Homo sapiens: one gene and its partners. The protein of the gene in region 1 interacts with the protein of each later gene in a pairwise test. Each region holds a gene or a part of one and is shown in the gene's direction. Other genes may lie near its edges.

Region 1 (2,637 bases):
AAACTTAGGGGTCTGGCTCCCAGCCTGCTCTCATGACCCCTCTGCATTGAGGCTTTTTCTGACCTCCTTCCCTCTGTAGGCAGAGGCCCCCAGTATGGTTGGGCAGGTTGTGAACTGCACAACTCTAGGGAGCACCATTTCCATTGCAGTTTCTGAGACTGGACTGTTTGCGGTGTTGTCTGGCGGATGAGGGTTAGTGTCTCAAGGAAGGGACGCCTTCATACAGAAGTGCTGTATGCACCAGCCCTGACATTATAGCTGCTCTAGAGAGACACTGGACCCCTGTGTACCCTCTGCCCTACAGCTCAGCACAAATCATAGTGCTGCCCTGTCTGCAGCAGGACCCACCAGGAACCAGGCCCAACACTCAACTCCATGCAGGTGATAAGAGCTCATCATTCTTGAATAATTGCCACGTGCTAAGCAGGGCTCTAAACCGTTACTGGTTGCCTTGTACAATCCTCACAGTCCTCAGGAATAGGTCTTTTGTTCTCCCTTTGTCTGGGTAGAGAAACTGAGGCTCAGGGAGCTTGGTGACTTTCCTAGTTTGCCTGGTTGGTAAGTGGCAGAGCTTACTGCCTACAAGGGCTGCATCTTACCCACCGGGTTCCCACATCCCCCACTGTAGTCCCCAGGGCTCTCTGTTGGCTGCTGTTTGGGAGAATGTGGCATGCAGGGGTGAGGCAGGGGGTCTTCTGAGGGCTCAGTTCCCAGGGAAGTTCCTCTCAGGTGCCAGGACCCTGTGGCAGCAGGGAGGGAATTCAGGTGAGGACAGCATGTTGTCCAGCTTGGTTCTATCTCATCTGCCTGTCCTTCCCAGGGTGTCACCATGACCAGAGATCTGTGTGGCCCCACGTCACCACCTGTGGCCTTTGAGATGAGTCTTGGAAGGTGGGCAGGAATGCCAGAGTCTTCATTGGATGAATGAAGAAATTGAGGCCCAGAAAGGACCATTCAGGGCACCCAGTGGGGTGGGAACTGTCAAGGCAGGAGCCTGAGACTCTGTCCCCTGGGCTGTGTGACTTGGCCTCTTTAAACCCTTGCCATGGTCTTGCCAGTCCAATGGGGCTGGCTCATCCTGGTTCCCTGGCCAGTGAGATGCTGGGTGACCCCAGGGCTGCAGCCTGGGAGGCGTGGCACTCTGTGTCTGCAGCTTTCTGCTTACCCCTGCCCTGGGCCAGCTCCTCTGCTCAGAAGCTGTGTGCCCAGCTGCAGCTGGGGGCAGGTGTCCTGCCCAGGAGCACAGGTGTCAGCTTTGACTGCCAGGGCACATTTATCCCATTTCCTCACTGGCACAGGGCCCTGTGACACACACACCCATCCAGGCCTGTACAGGAGGCTGGGGGGCTCTGCTGACTGGGAGTCCAGGTCATCTGCCATTGCCAGGGCAGGGGGCTGTGTCAAGACCTCTGCTCCAGCCTCAGGGGCCCTGTCTTGTCAGTGACCTGGACCAGGCCCTCAGCACCCTGAGCTTCAGTTTCCTCCTCTGACAGGCAGGGCAGTTGGGCTTCACCTAGTCTGGAGATGTGCTGAAAGCACTGCCCTGTGCCTGGTGCCACCACCACTCTGTGATGTGAGTCGGAGTTCCTGTCTCCTCCTGCAGGCCCTCCTGCCACCCCCTGTGCCTTGTCCAGAGCATGTTCTGCTGGGTCCTTCTGCTCTTCCACCCACAGGGTCAGGGCGCCAGGGCATCACCAGCCCTTACCAATTGCTGGGTGGGAACTGCTGCTCTGGGCACCGCCTCTCGCTGGGTGGCCCTGGTCCACAAAGGGGTGTTGGGCCTCGTGTCCCTGTGTGTGTGTGTGTGCGTGAGTACATGGGGGCATGAATTTGTGCCTGTGTGTGTGTGTGTGTGAGTATGTGTGGGCACATATTCGTCCGTGTATGTTTGTGTGCCTGTATGTGTGGGCATGTATTTGTCCGTGTGTGTGTGCGTGCATGCTTTGGGACTGCTCCTTGACAGTGTCTGCCCCCCTAGGGCTGCTTGCTGTGCCCACTCTTGCATTGAAATCCACCTCCTCAGCACCTACCATATACCAGGCATTGGGCTGGTCATGGGAAGACCACCGGGAACCAAGACAAACATGTCCTTTGTCATGGAGCTGACAGTCTAGTGGGACAGACTGACAGTCATCAAAAAGTTGAAGATAATTTAAAATCAAAACAACAGCAAGAATGAGGAGAGAGAGGTGTGTAATGCCACAGGAGCCTAGAATTGGATGCAGTCCTGGAGGGATTTCCTAAGGAAGTGACATTCGAGCTGAGCTCTAAGGAATGGGTAGGAGAGAGCAAGGAGGGGGAGGGAAGAACATTCTAGAAAGAGGGAACAGTATGTGCAAATGGCCTGTGGCAAGAAGGACCAAGGAAAGGTCAATGCAGGTGGAGCACAGAGCGGGATAGTGTGTCGTGGGAGGGGTAGGTGGGGTGGGAGGGACCTGCTGCCAAGCCAGGGGTGGAGAGGGCCTCAAATCCCTGAGGTTGGTGGCAAGCAGTCCAGGCCCTCGATGCAGCTTGGGCTCTTGACTGTCACATGAGTGCCTGCTCCCAGGCCAGCAGGGCCAAGAAAGCGAAATGTCGGGAGCCACCTGAACTCCCAGATACACTTTGCAGGGTCAATCTTTATTTGGGCCTGCCTTA
Region 2 (2,152 bases), on another chromosome or scaffold:
CCTATGTTTATTTATGTAATATAGCACTACTATAGGAAATTATTTTATGGTTTTTATGTAACTTTTTTTGTGAAGGAATAAGCATGCTTATAGTAATGCAGCTCGCAATTTTGTTAAAGAGAAGTTTGACTCTTAACCAAACATATCAGAATGGAACCATAATTCTAAGTGACTGACTGCTTTGTTTAATCACAGATGTAGTTGCATGGTGAGGTGAGACTGATGATTTTGCTGATCTTCTGCACTGAACTTTGTGTCACTATTAAGGCAGAAGAAATGACAGGCTTTGTTTTTAAGGGCATCTGCATTGTAAAATAGCTGTCTTAAGAAAAATGTACTGATACGAAATCAGCTGTATTCTGTGATTTATGTGATTTGAAAATAAACTGTCAGTGGCCAAACGGAAGGTATTTTTGTTTTAAACATGCCTTAATACCTTTGGAGTGGTCTGTTGGTCTAATTTGTTTTCTAGATTTAATGAAATTACACTGTAATTTTTATTTTTTATGGTGTTGTATATAGACTCAGGTGAAAAAATTAGGAAAATGTGACCTATTTTTTCATTTGGGATTGAAGCAGCCAATGAAATCCATGAAATTTTATAGAGGAAGATGAGAATGTAGAGAACTGGAACTAACAAAATGCCTTGTACTTGTCTGTCTTCTATAGCACGCTCCCTGAAATTTGGCAGGCAGACTGGAGGTGAAGAGGGAGATGGAGCTTCTGGGTATGATGCTTATTGGAAGAACCTTTCATCTGATAAGTATGGTGATACCAGCTACCACGATGAGGAGGAGGATGAGTATGAAGCAGAGGATGATGAAGAGGAAGAAGATGAAGGCAGAAAGGATTCAGATACTGAGTCATCAGATTTGTTTACTAATTTGAATTTAGGAAGGACCTATGCTAGTGGCTATGCTCACTATGAGGAACAAGAGAACTAGGGGAGCTGCTCTGGTGGCCGTGTGTGAGAGGAGCAGGAGTGAGTGTGTGTGCTTGATGAATTGTGTGTGGTTGTTCAAAAGTACCTTAGCCACTTAGCCTTGTGCAGAAGACTAGTTACACTTAATGGGCCAAGCAATAGGGTGTAGCGTTTTTATAGAACTGATAATCAGGCTTATGGCATAAGAAAAATGAGTTTCAAATTTAAGATGTTTATTGATCGAAGCAATTGAAGTATCATGGATTGGATTGTTACTGATTTCAGTAAAGTATGTTTTGCCAATTAGATACATATATACAAGATAAAGGAATAGGATGGTAATATATTTGTTTGAAATTAAATTACTGTTTTTATTAAAAAATACTGCTTCATTGGGCTGATTTTGTAAAATGTAATGAGTAAAATGAATTACTGTATTTTTCCTTTTATGTCCACAGAATGAGAGTCATATGTTGTTATATTCTAAATTTTCATTAAATATTCATGTCACCTTGAGTTGTCATGATAAGTATGTTTTAGTATTTGACTTATTCTTCTCTTTCTTCACAATGTATGTCCTCAGTGGTACCTATTATTGATGCCTTAAATGTATTGATAAGGTGACTAGTTAGCCATTTTTCAGAGATACAGTATCAGAAATAGTATTATTACAGAAGCTTTACCCAGGACATTTTATTTCTCTTTGAATAAATCTATTATTTCACTTAAATACTTTTGACATTATATTTAATTTTTTGTTCTGTATTTTCAGTTTGTTTTGGAAAGCATTCTAATTTTTTTACAAACTGCTTCAGTTTTCACACATATGGAAATAGGTAATAGAGACTGTGTGGTATACACTTAAAGATAAGCAGCCCAGACCCCATCATTGATAGGTGGAGGACAGTCCTGTCACAAGTCCCAGTTGTTACAACTTAACACTGGCATTTAATAGGGATTGGGTAGTTGTACAAGGAGAGACAATATCTGATTGCCTCACATTTTAGATGTATGGAGAAAATTGTAGCTATGAGGATAACAGGGTTGAATGGCCATTGTTAAGCCATTTTTGTTCTATAGAAGCATACTTAACAGCCAAGGACAATAACAGGCAATGGAAAGCCAGGTGTCAAAGTTAGAGGGCCTCTGGTGGCATGTGAAAAAGCTTTTCACCTTTTGCAGTAGGACGGCTTGAAAAAACTGAGGAGCAAGCCCGAGACTTAATAGTTT
Region 3 (2,999 bases), on another chromosome or scaffold:
AGGCTAATTGTGTTAATTTGACACATTTTTAGAATTATCTTGCTTTTTGAGAGTAGTGTTTTTGGAGGGACAACTGGGAGAGTAAACAAAAATAAGGTACATTCTCTGTTCTTAAGGACTTTATAATCTAGTCACAGGGAACAACTTTTAGGCAGTGCAGTATAAGACCAAACGTGTTACATACAGATACTTATTGTGGAGGAATTTAGTGACATTCATGCGGTTATTTATTTATCACAACACATGTTATATGTTGCAGTACAGCAGTAAGACAGACACAGTTTTGATCCTTACAGAGTTTAACACTTAGTAAAAGAGGCAGACACTAAATTATTTTTGATAAGTGTCATGAAATAAAAATAGAGTTTACATATAACATCTTAAGTTGCCTATTTTGTATCATTCTTTAATTACAATTTAAGTTTTGTTCAGGAGGTCACTGATAAACACATTATCTTTTTTTCCCTTCCAAGAATCGTTTGGGATTTTAGCATGTTTGTTAAGATGTACTCTGCCGAATGCGTCTGATAGTGCAAATTTATTTATTTTTTGTGTGGTACAATGTCATTGTGTGTAGGCAATTTTTGTTTGTTTGTTTGTTTTTTGGGGTAAAGGTAGACTGAAAATACTCTTATGGTTTACTTTGAATCTAAGTCCATAAACAATGTAATGCTATTGGCTTACCTCTTTTTTTTTTTTTTGAGACCGAGTCTTGCTCTGTTGTCTAGGCTGGAGTGCAGTGGCACGATCTCATCTCACGACAACCTCCGCCTCCCGGGTTCAAGTGATTCTCCTGCCTCAGCCTCCCGAGTAGCTGGGATTACAGGCACCCACCATCATGCTTGGCTAATTTTTGTATTTTTGTAGAGACAGGGTTTCACCATGTTGGTCAGGCTGGTCTTGAACTCCTGACCTCAGGTGATCTGCCTGGCCTGGTTTACCTCTTTAAACAAAGATTTATTTGACTGGTGAACCTTTCCCTCTGACATGGAAAAACCTTTGTTTCTTTTCTTACCCAAAGGGCAATTGTTAAAATAAAGGGTTGAATCTAATCAGTGGCTGTTTGAAAATAAAACTTTAAATTTATGTATTCTCTGTTCAGTTTCCTTAGGGACTTTGATGCAAATATATCTCCTACCTTTATGTATCTTTTATCCTAACTATGATAGGTTTATTCACACTAAGTATTGTGGTTTCTTTTTTCCTTCAGAGATTTACCGCATTGTTTCTCAGAAGCAAATGTCAGACAGACGCGAAAATGACATGTCTCCAAGCAACAATGTGGTTCCTATTCATGTTCCACCAACCACTGAAAACAAGCCAAAGGTGCAGTGCTGTCAGAACATCTAAGGCATTTCTCTTCTCCCCTAGAAGGCTGTGTATAGTCCATTTCCCAGGTCTGAGATTTAAATATATTTGTAATTCTTGTGTCACTTTTGTGTTTTATTACTTCATACTTATGAATTTTTCCATGTCCTAAGTCTTTTGATTTTAGCTTTATAAAATCATCCACTTGTCCCGAATGACTGCAGCTTTTTTTCATGCTATGGCTTCACTAGCCTTAGTTTAATAAACTGAATGTTTGGATTCCTCAGTTATTGTTTACTTTTCATCATGGAAGCCTGTCACTGTATGTAGGACATAATAGAACTTGATCACTTGAAGCTCAGACCTATTGGTCTTGATCAAATCAAACTAAGAAGACCTTAGAAATAAGCTACCATTTTGCCACAGAGCAGCTTATAGGTAATACACTCTTCTCTCAGTGCAGTGTACATTTCCACAAATCTAAGAATTGCCCTATAAACATAGCAGGATTTTGAGAGCTTGAAAATTTTCCATTATTCTGGACATGAATTTCTAAAATGCCTTAATAGGTTTATGTAGTTGAGTAAATTTTGTTTTTTAATTTTTGTAAGCATCAAAGTTGATTAGAGAGGGGGGCACTTTTTCTGGAGAATTCTCTTAGTAAACACAAAAGATTGTTACGGTTTCATTAGTAGTATGGTTGTGGGGCCATAAGTTAAACAGTGCTGCCTGGTAGGCTGGGAACTGAAGAGACTTGTGGTATTCCATCTCGGGTGCCTCTGTTGGCAATGATCAGGCAGCCCAAAAGATTTAAATGATCTATAATAATTTCCAAGCGGTAGATTATGTGGCATTTTATTGCTCAGGCAATAATTGGTTTAATGCTGGTAGTGTCAAATTTTGAAGTGTTAATTTTGTCTTAGAACCTTCCAGTAAGTGAAATACAACCTAGTTTTATCACCATATCCACCAGCAGGCATGGATAATTATTTTAACAATGCTAATATTTGAGTTTTGCAGTATATTATAGAATATAGTCCAGTTAAATCTTTGGTTTCAGTATGTCTGAAGAGTACAGTGAGAGGTTAATTTCTGCTCAAGTGGTACCACTTAAAGGCATGTATTCTTTTAGTATGTAAAATGAAATAGTACCTTGAGTTTAAATAGAATGCATTTAGGCATTGTAGAGATCTGAAATAGTTTTCTTCCACTACATTGTTGAAATCAATGAAGCAATTAGTTTCTCATTCAGAAATGTGCACACTAATATTTAGTTTTGCTTTCTCGTGGATAATATTAAGCACTTACTCTGCAGTTTCCTGGAAGTTGTGTCAACTGCAGTGATACTATTCAGGATGGTGGGAAATCCCCAAAAATATGTATGTGTGGGCTTGCTTAGATTACTATATTTCATAGTTAATCTTTTGTCTCTTGCGGTGCTCATGATGTGTGGGGCACACGGAAGGCATTGCTGTAGTCAGTCATTTTGGTTTTCTTCTATAGCCATTTTATTATTTTAGTGTATTAGTTATGAAGATAATATTATCTATTTGTAAATTGCTACTTTGTATTTTATGCATGCTCTGTAATTTGATTTTTTTTTAGTTATTGATTTGGATTATATTCACATTCTAATAAACAGTTATAGGGGGATTATTTCTTATGCTGTCAGATTACATTTTTCCTTTGAG
Region 4 (3,500 bases), on another chromosome or scaffold:
CAGGAAGTTAAGTCAGGTGTTTTTTTGTTTTTTTTTTTTGAGACTGAGTGTAGCTCTTGTTATCCAGGCTTCCAGGCTGGAGTGCAGTGGCGCGATTTTGGCTTCCTGCAACCTCCACCTGCTGGATTCAAGCAATTCTCCTGCCTCAGCCTCCCAAGTAGCTGGGATTACAGGCGCTCACTACCACGCCCGGCTAATCTTGTATTTTTAGTAGAGATAGGGTTTTGCCATGTTGATCAGGCTGGTCTCGAATTCCTGACTCAGGTGATTCACCCACCTCAGCCTCCCAGAATGCTGGGATTACAGGCGTGAGCCACTGCGCCTGGCGGAAGTCAGGTTTTTTCCCAGTTATATAATGAATACGGGGTTTCCCCCTCCATACCGTGGATAGTGAGGTGGGATGGTTCCCTCGGTGGGGCCGTCCTGGGCACTGCAGGCTGCTGAGCAGCATCCCTGGCCTCCACCTGCTCTGTGCCAGGAACACCCCTAACTCTGACAACCACAGATGTCCCCAGACACAGCTCGGTGTCGCCTGGGGCAGGGTCGTCCTCAGATGAGGACGGTTGAACTGTGGCAGGTGAGGGGCCAGTGTGGCTGCCCTGCGCTCTGCTCCTCCCTCAGTCTCTCCGAGGCTGTACTGCCTCCAGCTGAGACAGATTCCTGCTGGGCAGGCTAATGGTAGGTGCTGGGCCCTTAGGACAGGGGAGGCCATTTGCCCAGGTCACCCCTGAGTCCATGGCAGGGCTGGGCCGGGCGCCCCCATTTAATGCCTAGCTTCTCGTGCCCAGCCGCTTCAGACCCACCGCCCCCACCTGCTGTGGGGCCAGGTTCCTGGGGCCTCCCAGCCTGGCCCTCACACCTAGTAAGGGTTCAGATCCAGCCGAGCCAGGCTTGGCCATGGAGGCCTCTCTGCCTGGGTGACCCAAGGTGGCGACCTCGTCTTTCTCAGCCTCGTCTTCCTTGTCTATGTACCTGGGTCAGCACAGCCTCCACCTGCACTGGGTCCCTGCTGCAGAGTGCTCAGAGCCAGCCACACAGTATAAAAAAATCAGTTTGGGCTGGGCACGGTGGCTCACAACTGTAATCGCAGCCCTTTGGGAGGCCAAGGCAGGTGGATCACGAGGTCAGAAGATCGAGACCATCTTGGCTAACACAGTGAAACCCCGTCTCTACCAAACATACAAAAAAATTAGCCGGGTGTGGTGACGGGCGCCTGTAGTCCCAGCTACTCGGGAGGCTGAGGCAGGAGAATGGCGTGAACCCGGGAGGCGGAGCTTGCAGTGAGCCGAGATCCTGCCACTGCACTCCAGCCTGGGCAACAAAGGGAGACTCCGTCTCAAAAAAAAAAAAAAAAAAAAGTTTGGTTTTCTCCTCAGAAAGCTTCTGGACATTTCTTTTTCTTTTTCTTTTTTTTTTTTGAAATGAAGTCGCTCTGTCGCCAGGCTGGAGTGCAGTGGCGTGATGTCGGCTCACTGCAACTTCTGCCTCCCAGGTTCAAGCGATTCTCCTGACTCAGCCTCCCGAGTAGCTGGGACTACAGGTGCGCACCACCACGCCTGGCTAATTTTTGTATTTTTAGTAGAGACAGGGTTTCACCATGTTGGCCAAGATGATCTCAATCTCTTGACCTCGTGATCCACCCCACATCTGCCTCCCAAAGTGCTGGGATTACAGGCGTGAGCCACCCTGCCCATCCCACATTTCTTTTTCTTATGTCGAGATATGATTTGCATACCATAGAATATACAGTTTTTAAGGGTGTCATCGAGTGGGTTCTCGTGGATCAGTAGGTATCGCAGCTCCCACCACTGCCTAGTCTCAGGGCAGTCATGTCCATCCCCAGCAGCTGCCACCCTTCATCCACTGGCCCCCACGCATCCCCTCCTGTCTGTAAATGGGTCTGTCCTGGACATTTCATAGAAGTGGAATCACATACTATGTGGCTTTCGTTTATTATTATTATTTAAGACAGAATCTCACTCTGTCGCCCAGGCTGGAGTGCAGTGTCGCGATCTCAGTTCACTGCAATCTCCGCCTCCCAGGTTCAAGTGATTCTCTTGCCCCAGACTTCTGACTAGCTAGGATTACAGGCGTGCACCACCACACTCAGCTAATATTTGTATTTTTTTTGAGACAGAGTCACACTCCGAGGCCCAGGCTGGAGTGCAGTGGCACGATCTTGGCTCACTGCAAGCTCTGCCTCCTGGGTTCACGCCATTCTCCTGCCTCAGCCTCCCAAGTAGCTGGGACTACAGGCACCCGCCACCACGCCTGGCTGATTTTTTTTTTTGTATTTTTAGTAGAGACGGGGTTTCACCATGATAGCCAGGAGGGTCTCGATCTCCTGACCTTGTTATCCGCCCGCCTCGGCCTCCCAAAGTGCTGGGATTACAGGCGTGAGCCACTGCACCTGGCCTAATTTTTGTATTTTTAGTAGAGACGAGGTTTCACCATATTGCCCAGGCTTGTCTCGAACTCCTGACCTCAAGTGACCCACCCACCTCCGCCTCCCAAAGTGCCAGGGTTACTGGCGTGAGCCACCTGCCTTGTGTGTCCTTTCGTGTCTGGCGTCTCTCACTGGGTGGGACATCCTCACGGTGCACCTGTGCTGAGGCCTGGGTCTGAGCCTGGCTCCTTTCCATGGCTGGGTCGCGTCCCGTGCGTGTTGGTCCTTCGGTCTACGGAAGGACACTCAGGATGCTGCTAGTTTGTGGCTGTTGTGGTCAGTTCTGCTGTGAACATCCACGGATGCGTCTTTGGGTAGATAGACTTTTTCCTCTTCTTCTGGGGGCGTTTCTTGTTAAAGTTTATCCTCAGGTGTTACTGGTTTTTGTTTTTTTTTTTTTGGAGAGTGTTTCTCTTTGTTACCCAGGCTGGAGTGCAGTGGTGCAATCATAGCTTGCAGCCTGTGCCTCCATGGGTTCAGACGATCCCCCTGCCTCAGCCTCCAAGCAGCTGGGACCACAGGTGTGCACCACCACGCCTGGGTAATTTTTTGTGGAGACAGTTTCACCATGTTGCGCAGGCTCGTCTCAAATTCCTGGGCTCAAGAGCTCCGCCAGCCTTGACCTCCCAAACTGGGTGTTTTCTTGCCATTGTGAGCCAGCTGCTAGATTCCCGCATGCACGTTTTAGCTATGTTTCTTCGCAGGGAGAGGCACCTGGCTGCCCTCTCTGGTTCAGGGTTTTGCTGTGGATTCTGTTGCATTTTCCAGGGAGGCCAGCCCCTCTCCTGACCTCACAGCCACTCCTCTCACCCAGCCCGTACAAAAGAGTCCTGGGCCTCAGTTTCCCAGCTCTGGGGGAGGGAGCCTTGTGGTGTGGCGGTCTCCACCTTGTCGGGTGGGCTGGGGTCACGCCCTCCTCACTCAGCTCTCCTTTCCTTTCCTCTGGTTTGCTCCACACCCACAGGGAACTGCAGCCCGGAGTTAAAGCCGTGCAGGTCGTCCTGAGGTATGCCCAGGTGTGCCCGCGACCCCAGGGCTGGACCCCCAGCCACCC
Region 5 (3,500 bases), on another chromosome or scaffold:
CTCTGGTTAAAGCTAGTAAAAGATTTCTGAGCAAATGAGACCATGCCTAGGTCAGTATGTCCTCCCTTTTTAGATGTGGACATAGTGAAGGGTAGGTTACCTCTGCTCCCAACCCTCTCTCCCCTAAAGACCCTGGATTATTTAATGAGAGCTGTGGAATCATAGCTTCAGATTTGGCCTTTGTATTAGCGGCCATATTCTACCCCTATTTGTACTGCCAACTGTAACTTGCCTGAAGTAAAGCTGGCAGAAATAGGAGCTTACAGTTGCAGTGGAATAATTGTTCCAGACCACACATGTGTTTGTGTATTCACCTGTTTGTGTTCCCCCATCCCGTATTCCACAAAGGCTTTGTGTTTATTCTTAAGCTAAAAAATGCCCTCTTCTCTTACCCATCCCTTTTCCTCTACACAGCTTGGGCTTAGGTTTTAACTTCTTAAAGCCCTTCCTGATGACCCTAATACACACAGATCTCTCAAGCTTCCATGTCTTTGGAGCACGTCATCTGTAGTGTACTTTGCTTGCCTAGCTTTCACAGTTGATCGCTTTGGCCTGTCAGTATAATGTTTACATATAGCAACCCTCACCGATTGATGCTATACCTGAGAATCAGAAAGTCAGCAAAGAAGACTTCTACTAGAAAAACATGTTGTTACAAACTTTGTGTTCTTCTAGCCTTCCTTATTTACTGGATATTTATTCAGGAACAGTATAGCATTATACTGTCCACTTTTTCTTAGCATTAAGCATGTTATAGCATTAAGACCACTTGTTTTTGTGTCAGACTTCCTGGATTCACATTCCACTGCCACCACTGACTAGCTGCTTGACATTATTCAAGTTAACCACTTTGATACTCAATTTCTGCATCTGTAAAATGGGGATAATACTATCTGCCTTATAGGTATCATCTTAGATAATGTGTGTACGGGACTTACCATAATTCCTGGCATATTCTAAGTCCTCAGTCTTAGTCATCCTCAGTTCAGCACATACGGTTTTGCTGTGTTGCACCTGTTCTGTGCAAAGTACCATGCCAGACACATTATTTATTTTTATTTTTGTAGAGATCGTGTCCCACTATGTTGCCCAGGCTAGTCTCAAACTCCTGGGCTCAAACGATCTTCCTGCCTCAGCCTCCCAAAGTGCTGGGATTATAGGTGTGAGCCACAGTGCCCTGCCTGACACATTTTAAATGGTGTTTTTTCATGCTTGGGGATCTGTTTTCCAAGCATGGCAGACTAGAAAGAGTAAATAAGGGAGAGGAATCATTCATATACCCAATGTTTACCCATGATATACTTTGTGCCAGGCCAAGTGATTGCTAGATGCACTGCAAAATATGTCTGAGACCTGGGACATTGTACGTGGTCTGTCAGAATTAGCCCCTCTCTTCATACATGTTCTGTTCCCTTACAGAGTTTATAGTAGTATGATACGTCTGTGTAACAGGCCAACAAAAAGGAGACAGAGAAAGCACACAAATTTAGCATAATTTATCCTACCTCCCGGCTGTTTGAAGCTATTAACATAGGTGTATATAGCCCTATATACCTATGTAAGCCCCAAGCATCAGTTTACTGTATCTTTGTGCTATGATTTATGTTTATTATGACTGTTAGCCATCAAATAAAGATTAAATTATGTTCAATATAGCTTGTTAGTGAAAGAAGAAAAAAAATATAGTTTTCTATCCAAAATGGTTTAAATATAATTTTTTTACTTAAAAGGATAAGCAATAGATTATCTAGAAAGCACAGTTATCCAGAATGTCTAGGCTTACAGAGGCTCTGGATTGCATGGATTATACTTTATATAATACTAACTCATTTTCTGATTGTTTAATGGATGCATGCCTTCGGTCTATACCTTGGGAGCTTGGGATAGGCATTCTATCAAACTTCTTAACTTACAGTATTTTTTAGTTCTGGGCACGTAGCGGGCACTCAGATTCTCATGTAACAAGACAGTTTGCTATGTTTAGAGTTATAGTGAAATACTGATTTCCAAGAAAGAAACTCCTGTATAAGAATATTGTAAGATTTGGTTAAAAGTAAATTCTATCAACTAAAAGGCCAAAAAGATCTGAGAAAAGGAAATGTTAAAACCAATCATGGCCAGGCACAGTGGCTCACCTCTGTAATACCAACACTTTGGGAGGCTGAGGCAGCTGGATCACTTGAGCCCAGGAGTTTGAAACCAGCCTGGGCAACATGCTGAAATCCCATCTCTACGAAAAATACAAACATTAGCCAGGCGTGATGGTGTGCACCTGTAGTCCCAGCTACTCGGGAGGCTGATGTGGGAGGATTGCTTGAGTCTGGGAGGTTGAGGCTGCAGTGAGCCAAGATTGTTCCACTGCATTTCAGCCTGGGTGACAGAGCTAGACCACGTCCTCACACCACCACCCCCCAAAAAAAGAAGAAAAAAGAAAACCAGCCACAATAGCTTCAAACTGTAAATTGAGTTATGAACTAAATACTGATGTATATGAATGGAAAAGTAAAGTGAAATGTACTTCTTAGGGTTCAGAAGCACAGAGAAACTAAACCGAAGATCACAGTTGAGGAGATTATGTTATGGTTTAGGAATATTTTATGCTTAATTTCTCAAGCATGAGAAGGGTGAATAAGAAAAGAGGAAGCCAAGGAGACTTGCTGGAGAATCTGAAAATTTATAGATAGTAGCAATGAATGTGGCTTTAAACTAATTTTTATGCTGCCATTTCATTGGGGGAATAAAAGAAAAAGAAAACTATTCCAAAACAGATATGAATTTCCCAAGATGTGAAAATGTTCTGAAATAAGGAATGAAGCATGAAAAATTTTGAAAAATGGACCTCATTTGGAGGATAATAACAGATTCTCCCAAATGTCAGAAAATATGGCAAGTAATTCATTGTTGTAAAGAAAGCTTCCTAATATTTATTTAAGGACTTTGGTTTTTTTTTTTTTTTAATTAAAAAAAAAAATTTAAGAGACAGGAGTCTTGCTAATGTTGTCCAGGCTGACCTTAAACTCCTGGGCTCAATTGATCCTCCTGCCTCATCCTCCTGAGCTATTGGGACTGCAGGCACATGCCACCATGCCAGGCTAGACTTCTTCCTCTTGTTAGTGTTATTATTTTTTAAACAGTGATTAGCATAACCATTCTATTGAAATGGTCCTTTATTCATTCCCAGAATGGATCTGAACCTTGGAGATTATAATGGCGTGACAGCCTTTTCTCATGCTGACCTTTTTACTTTTGCCCACTACTGTGCCAGATTTCTTTTGAAAGTGCCTATTTTGAGCAAAATGATTTTAACATCTTAAGGAAGAGGGCAACACTGACCATGTAAGGATTGTAGAATGGAAGGGCCTGGAAACAGATCTTGTGGATTTGAATTTGTCTGATCTAAGTTCCTGCTCTTCTAAGAGAATGCAAAAACAAGATAAAATGCAACTATCCACTAGCATAGCAGTTTTCTGGGTCTTCCACTAAACTATCTTAATTAATTA
Region 6 (3,500 bases), about 69 Mb from region 1:
GCAGAGCAGCAAAGAATATGAAGACTTTTAAAGCTCATGGTAAGTTTTTTGTTTTTTTTTTGAGACAGAGTCTCACTGTCACGTAGGTTGGATTGCAGTGGCACAGCCATAGCTCTGAAACCTCAAACTCCTGGGCACACGCCACCAAGCTCAGCTAATTTTATTTTATTTTATTTTTATTTTTTGGAGATGGAGTTTCGCTCTTGTCGCCTAGGCTAGAGTGCAGTGGCATGATCTTGGCTCACTGCAACCTCCACCTCCCGGGTTCAAGTGATTCTGCTTCCTCAGCCTCCCAAGTAGCCCAACTAATCTAAAAATTTTTTGTAGAAGACTGGGCGTGGTGGCTCATGCCTGTAATCTCAGCACTTTGGGAGGACGAGGCAGGTGAATCACGAGGTCAGGAGTTTGAGACCGACCTGGCCAACATAGTGAAACCCCGTCTCTCCTAAAAATACAAAAAATTAGCCGGGCGTGGTGGTGGACGTCTGTAATCCCAGCTACTCGGGAAGCTGAGGCAGGAGAATCACTTGAACCCGGGAGGCGGGGGTTGCAGTGAGCCGAAATTGTACCGTTGCACTCCAGCCCGGGCAACCGTGCGAGACTCCGTCTCAAAAAAAAAAAAAAAAAAAAAGAAAATTTTTTTTTTGTAAAGACAGGTTTTCACTATGTTGGCCAGGCTAGTCTTGAACTCCTGGCCTTAGTGCTGGGATTACAGATGTGAGCCACTGTACCAGGCCCTAAAAGTTTTTTGTTTGATTAGTTTTTAATTTTTTTTAGATCATTTAGATCTAATCAAAAGTGGCCTGCCAGTTGCTACCTAAAAAAGAGCCTTGGCCTGGCACAGTGGCTCATGCTTGTAAACACTTGAGGGTGGGGGTTCAAGACCACCCTGGGCCAAATAGCAAGACCTCATCTCTACAAAAAATAAAATTAGCTGGGCGTGGTGGCATGCACCTGTAGTCCCAGCTATTCAGGAGGCTAGGGCAGGAGGATCGATTGAGTCCAGGAGTCTGTGGCTGCAGTGAGCTATGATCACACCACTGCACTCCAGCCTGGGTAACAGAACGAGGCTTTGGCTCTTAAAAAAAAAAAAAAAAAGAGCCTGGGAGTGATGGAAGACTATCCTGAATTACAGTTACCCTTCTTTTAGTTTTGATTTATAGTAACTACGTATTAAATTAGGGAGAATTTGCAAGTCCAAAATCCAGCTGATCAAACAAGCATCTTTTAAGAATACTGCCTGGAACCTAGGTGGGGAAAAAGCATGTTTGGAATTACCTTGCCCAAACCAGACAGTTCTGCAAAAGATCATCCATTGAGCCAGAAAATCTTAAGCTTATAGTAGATGCCTTGTCCATATTTATATGTTGTTTTGAAAATCAAAATCAAAATAAACCTTGTTAATTACTAAGAACAGATAATGATCTTTAGAAAATTAATTGATTTTATATGTAGATATGTATCTTAGTGATTCATCTATGATAGAACAGTGAAGACAAACCCCAGTCCCAAATGGGATCTTCTGTTTTTGCATAATATGAATTAATCATGAGATGTGCCTTTCCTCCCAACATTTTGATGTCTCTGATTGGGATTCCTCTTAGAGTTGATGGTATATTAACAATTGCTATCAGCCAGGTAGCAGTAGTAATGTATTTCACATTGCCTGCAAATGTACATACTTGGTTGTTTCTCCTAGTAGCATACTGGCCAAGTGTAGTCTCTCAGTGTTCAACTAACAGATCAATTTTGCCACCATTTGAGAAAGGAATATCAGTCCTGGTTGTTGTCCGAAAACCTTCTTTTGACACCTGGTGAGATGTCAAATGACATCATCAAAATTTGCTGAATGAGTATCAGTTTCTTGGAAGAAAATATTAGGGACAAAAATGGAGTACTTCTAAGAAATACTTACCTCCTCATGGCACAGAGAATGATAATGTATAGGAAAACATGCATATTGATGACTCTCGAGTTGAAAAGTGGTTCATGGGCCCGGTGCGGTGGCTCACGCCTGTAATCCCAGCACTTTGGGAGGCCGAGGCGGGCAGATCACAAGGTCAGGAGATCGAGACCATCCTGGCTAACACGATGAAACCCCGTCTCTACTAAAAATACAAAAAATTAGCTGGGTGTGGTGGCTGGCACCTGTAGTCCCAGCTACACGGGAGGCTGAGGCAGGAGAATGGCATGAATCCGGGAGGCGGAGCGTGCAGTGAGCCAGGATCACACCACTGCACTCCAGCCTGGGCGACACAGTGAGACTCTGACTCAAAAAAAACCAAAAAACAAAAAAACAAAAAAGAAAAGTGGTTCATAAGATTCGAACTCTGTGAAGTTTTAGAAATAAATTTATGATGCTTATATTTGTTATGTTTACATGAGAGCTGTATATGATAAAATTCTGTGTGAAGGTCTGTTTTCATAAATATAAGGTAAAAAATTCAAGACATAAGAAAACCTTAAATCATAGCTTAATTGCCAGCATTGTTTTGTTTGAGTAGTACAAAAATGAAAATGATGCATCTTACAATGGATACCATCGTAGATTTGATGAAATGGTACCATATTGATTCTATTTTTTAAGCTACTAACTTTAAACAAACAGCAATTATCCAGTGTTGAAGTTGATATTGTTAGCTTAAAATAGGGAATCTGTTTCAACTTGCTTTGCGCTAAGAAGAGCTTTTAAATTTAATTATGCTACAAGTTTTTACATAAATATGTAACTCCTTGAATTGGAATTACCCATTTTTAGAAAAAAAAAAAACAAAACAGAAACGAAGCGGCAGATTTTTTTTAAGAATGGCACTAGCCAAACAAGATTTCCTGATGCTTTCTTTTTTACATCTTAAAATAGCACTATATGGAATTGTAGTGGAGTGTTTGAAAAATATTCTGTCAAATCTAAATCTCTGAGGCCTGGGGAAGTGGAGGACTGAAAATAGGGACTTACTGGCATCATGATTTTGTGTCCTTTCCCCTTCTTTATACTATATTGACTTAGCTTCCTCCTCTGAAAATAGGAAGCTAAGGAATAAGTTGATTTAAGAAAAAAAAATTTTTGGCCATGTGTGGTGGCTCACACCTGACCTGTAATCCCAGCACTTTGGGAGGCTGAGGTAGGAGAATTGCTTGAGCCCAGGTGTTTGAAACCAGCCTGAGCAGCATAGTGAGACCCTGTCACTACAAAAAATAGAAAAAAAGTAGCCAGACATGGTGGCACATGCCTGTAGTCCCAGCTACCTGGGAGGCTGAGGTGGGAGGATTTTTTGAGCTCAGGAGGTCAAGGCTGCAGTGAGCCGAGATCATGTTACTGCTCCAGCCTGGGAGAAGAATGAGACCCTATCTCAAACAACAACAGCGACACCCACAACAGTTTCTAAGGCTGAGGCATAAATTATTTTTAGAATAAAAATATATCTTTTAGATTTTAAGCTGCAGTTATCTCCAGTAGTTATTGGTATTTTCATTCTTCCCCTGGGCCTTTGGGATGTAAT
Region 7 (3,500 bases), on another chromosome or scaffold:
GACAGATCTTCTGGGGCTTAACTCAAATACTGTTGTGTCTGCACCAGTCTTTTAGTGTCTCAAAATAGATTATTAATACATCCATAAGTCTGTGGTTCTTCTCATTCTCATCTATAATCCACCACTACCAAGAGAGATTTCTGTGTCTTAAATGATTTGGTGCATATTTTGCAACATTGAGAGAAAACTGCCCCCATCTCAAGCAAGAATGGCGTTGGTTTCTTCCATTTCAAACTAATCAGCATTCTCCAGCAATGACAAAGTGCCAGAGTGTATATATGAAAGCTAAGGAAAGCACAAAACAATGGTTCAGAGATAAATTGGCTAATTTGTTTAACAGTTGGAGACTGTGCAATGTACGACTTGGAGGAGTTTGTTTGGCATAATGATTTTGTAGGTCTGTCAGCATTTTGATATATTGTGGATTAGCCAGGTGAATGATCCTTGAAACATCTCTTTCAGGTCTGGAGAAAGAGACAGAATGCCCTTAAAGTGTGAAATAACCTTATACCTGAATTACAGTTTTGTGATATAAAATAAAGCTGAGTATAAAATAAAACCAATCAAACACAGAATTTGATTGGATTTGTTATTCATTGGTATACAACAATTTTTATTCTTATGTGTGCTTTAAGGGCTGTGTTTTGCTCTTAGGGTACTCAATTTTATGTTTCCTTTTGGCATTCTTTGTGCAAAAAGAAGCATGTGGTGGCTCTCATTTAAATTTCAAAATTATTAGTTTTATCTTTAACAGATTACTGATTATACAGAAGATATAATTTATTGGAAGAACTGCCAAATACATTTTGTCCTTCTAAAAATATGGAAATTTAAATAGTAGTCTGGAAAGTTACCATATGATAATTTTTAATTGTGTGATCTAGACATGCCTTAGGTAACTGCAGAAATAGCAAATTAAATGATTAATGAGCTTATTAGTCATAGTAAACATACAGATTCCTAATTCTATGACAGTGTACATATATGAAAATAAATGATGAAAAAAGAACTATAATATTTTTAAAAATATGCTTTTATTTATATTTCACATAATGTAAAGTTCTACAAAATAAAGCTAGTAGGCAAGACCCCTCAGTGTATACCTTTAAACCCATAAATTAATTTTATATCAATAAAATAAAATACTTTCTCTAGTTTTGGAGCTTCTGTATTTCCTATAGTTTTCTGACTGTCCATTTTATCCATCTTAGAAGTATTCACATCCCTTCTATGCAGGATTTCTGCATAGTTTTAAATACTTTCATTGCCTAAGGGTTTGGGTGTGTCAGCTTTTTTTGTTTTAAAAATATTTAACACTAAAACCTTAAAATAATGAAGCTACTTATCAGACCACTGAGCCAAGATCCTGGTATTAAAAGAAAGTCTGGGTGCTTAAGATAAAGGGACAGAGTATTGGTATCCCAGTTATTTGGGAGCTTTAAGATTGGAACAAGATATCACTGTCTTGTTTTCACTTAGATCCTACTTACAAAGTGAGGGTTATTAACAGAATAAAGCCTTCCTTTAAAGCTTTATAATAATCATATTTATTAATAATGCTGTTGTGCATACTTATAGTATGCATATATTCAGCATATGTTGCATGTCTTCAGAATTACATAAAATGAAATCCCTTTCATTGCAACTTGCAAGTGAGAAAAGATCCTTAGTGGCTCTGGTGGAAGAAATAGTATTTCTTCTTCTCAGGGTGTCTCCCTGCCTTGGCCCCTCCCTGAGCCCCAGGCTTTAAAAGTGAAAATGTTTGAAACATGAAACATGTCTGTAGGAAGCATCAGCATGGCCATAAGTGCAGTGATTTTCATATATGCCTCTGCCCATTTCAAATATATTTTTGACATGAATAAATCTAACAGTATACAGAATAATTCATGTAAGACCCTAACGTGTACATGTGAAAAAGCATTTCTATATAATGTGAGGAGCACTGGCCATCAATTAGGGAAATAAAGGTCATGTAATATTGCAAATTTTCAAAATAGAGCCCTGCAAGATAACTGCAATCATACCAAAAACTATTTGAGTAAATGGATTTTTAAAGTAATTTTTGTTTAGAAGAGTTTATATTTCAGAAGCAGAAAATGTCAAATGATAGTCTTTGTAAATGGTGGTGCACCTTCTCTATGCACATCTGTCTTTTACATCAGAAAGAGCTGTGGTCATGCTAAAATTAGAGATAACTTTTTGAATGACTTGGTCAAGCTGTGTGTAAAATATTTAACCATAAGTCAAGTACAGTGTACTATGTTTAATAAAGTTACATTTAATGCATTTATTGCATATATGAATATATACATGAAGAGGCTTTATGTCTTCTGGTATTTGATTTTGAATGTTTTTTAAGTCAGTGGTGCCTTTAGGCAAGAACTTTCGAAATTAATCATTCTTTGTGTTTTCTGATTTTTCAGGTAACATGTACACTATTTAGAAACCATCATAGTTTATTCACCTTAAAAAATTGATTGTATTATTTAAATATATCACTTAGATGGGCATTTCCTATAATTAGGATATTCCAAATAGTTGCTGAAATCAATTGTGCCATTGACCAATGGATGCACTTGGTTAGCCTTAATTTTTTTAAAAAAAAAAAAAACAAAAACTTTCTTGAATATTTCAGTTTGTTCATTTTAAGTTTGTGCTGCTGGTATTTGGGAAGAAAAATCAATCAGTTAAGTGCTACCAGAAAGTGTACCAATTTTTATAAAAATTAAGAATGATATAAATTTCACAATCTAAAATTTTAATTTTGTGCAATATTTTCATTTAATGCATGTGTATTTGAGTAATTGTAAGATAAATGAATTTTTAATTTTTTGAGATGTAGCTTAAACTGTCTTCTTAATCCAACAACTTACATTCCGTTGTTGCTGCATCCTTTTATTTAAGGACTTGTTTTAAAAGTCTTTTTGTCACTCCTTGGAAAATTCTTTTATTAGTAGTAAATTTTGCTTTTAGGAGCATGGCTCCTGTATTACAAGGGAAAAAATATGAAGAGCACATTTTAGGATTATAATTGTTAAAAGATAATGTGTGCATATCATTGTACAGTAAGTGTCAACTGTGTGCCTAACTGTTCTATCAATACTTTCTTTCTTTAACAAAGAAGAAACAACAATCAGAATGTCAGTTATTTTTATTCAACTAAAAGGATTAAAAAATTTATTTGGTTTGTGTTCTGTCCATTAGAAAATACTAATAAAGTATTAACAAACATTTTTGTTGAGTTCATTTAATAGTAATGTATTTTTGTTACTTTTAAGATGCTTGCTCAGTAGTCTTATTTTTAGTATCTGTTTGTATTTTCTTTTCTTTTAGATATCAACCAATTCAAGTTCCAGGTTGATAGATGAGTGCTTGAGTGATTACTGACTTAAATGGACTGAATTTAACTTTTTCTTTTATGGGGCAAATAATTTACACCACAGTGTTAAAGAAACTTTATACTTCCTCATCGTATCAAATTATAAAGTATTTTCCCA

The links.
Region 2: the proteins of KLF15 (region 1) and ZNF330 interact in binary tests that used the Homo sapiens proteins (3 or more experiments, as listed by UniProt).
Region 3: the proteins of KLF15 (region 1) and RAB11A interact in binary tests that used the Homo sapiens proteins (3 or more experiments, as listed by UniProt).
Region 4: the proteins of KLF15 (region 1) and PIAS4 interact in binary tests that used the Homo sapiens proteins (3 or more experiments, as listed by UniProt).
Region 5: the proteins of KLF15 (region 1) and ANKS1A interact in a two-hybrid assay, tested with the Homo sapiens proteins (one large-scale study listed by BioGRID and IntAct).
Region 6: the proteins of KLF15 (region 1) and APPL1 interact in a two-hybrid assay, tested with the Homo sapiens proteins (one large-scale study listed by BioGRID and IntAct).
Region 7: the proteins of KLF15 (region 1) and SNX13 interact in a two-hybrid assay, tested with the Homo sapiens proteins (one large-scale study listed by BioGRID and IntAct).

What each region holds. Positions count from the first base shown.
Region 1 is NC_000003.12:126,344,772-126,347,408, reverse strand, and holds part of KLF15 (Krueppel-like factor 15), read left to right. Parts: intron 1-2,637. UniProt on the Homo sapiens protein: Transcriptional regulator that binds to the GA element of the CLCNKA promoter. Binds to the KCNIP2 promoter and regulates KCNIP2 circadian expression in the heart. Is a repressor of CCN2 expression, involved in the control of cardiac fibrosis.
Region 2 is NC_000004.12:141,233,046-141,235,197, forward strand, and holds the end of ZNF330 (zinc finger protein 330), read left to right. Parts: intron 1-669; coding exon 670-944; 3' UTR 945-1,652; downstream 1,653-2,152.
Region 3 is NC_000015.10:65,886,491-65,889,489, forward strand, and holds part of RAB11A (ras-related protein Rab-11A), read left to right. Parts: intron 1-1,210; coding exon 1,211-1,350; 3' UTR 1,351-2,999. UniProt on the Homo sapiens protein: The small GTPases Rab are key regulators of intracellular membrane trafficking, from the formation of transport vesicles to their fusion with membranes.
Region 4 is NC_000019.10:4,024,736-4,028,235, forward strand, and holds part of PIAS4 (E3 SUMO-protein ligase PIAS4), read left to right. Parts: intron 1-3,410; coding exon 3,411-3,452; exon of another isoform or gene 3,453-3,454; coding exon of another isoform or gene 3,455-3,462; intron 3,463-3,500.
Region 5 is NC_000006.12:34,892,255-34,895,754, forward strand, and holds part of ANKS1A (ankyrin repeat and SAM domain-containing protein 1A), read left to right. Parts: intron 1-3,500. UniProt on the Homo sapiens protein: Regulator of different signaling pathways. Regulates EPHA8 receptor tyrosine kinase signaling to control cell migration and neurite retraction.
Region 6 is NC_000003.12:57,230,729-57,234,228, forward strand, and holds part of APPL1 (DCC-interacting protein 13-alpha), read left to right. Parts: exon of another isoform or gene 1-36; coding exon of another isoform or gene 37-39; intron 40-3,500. UniProt on the Homo sapiens protein: Multifunctional adapter protein that binds to various membrane receptors, nuclear factors and signaling proteins to regulate many processes, such as cell proliferation, immune response, endosomal trafficking and cell metabolism.
Region 7 is NC_000007.14:17,790,495-17,793,994, reverse strand, and holds the end of SNX13 (sorting nexin-13), read left to right. Parts: 3' UTR 1-3,234; downstream 3,235-3,500. UniProt on the Homo sapiens protein: May be involved in several stages of intracellular trafficking. May play a role in endosome homeostasis. Acts as a GAP for Galphas.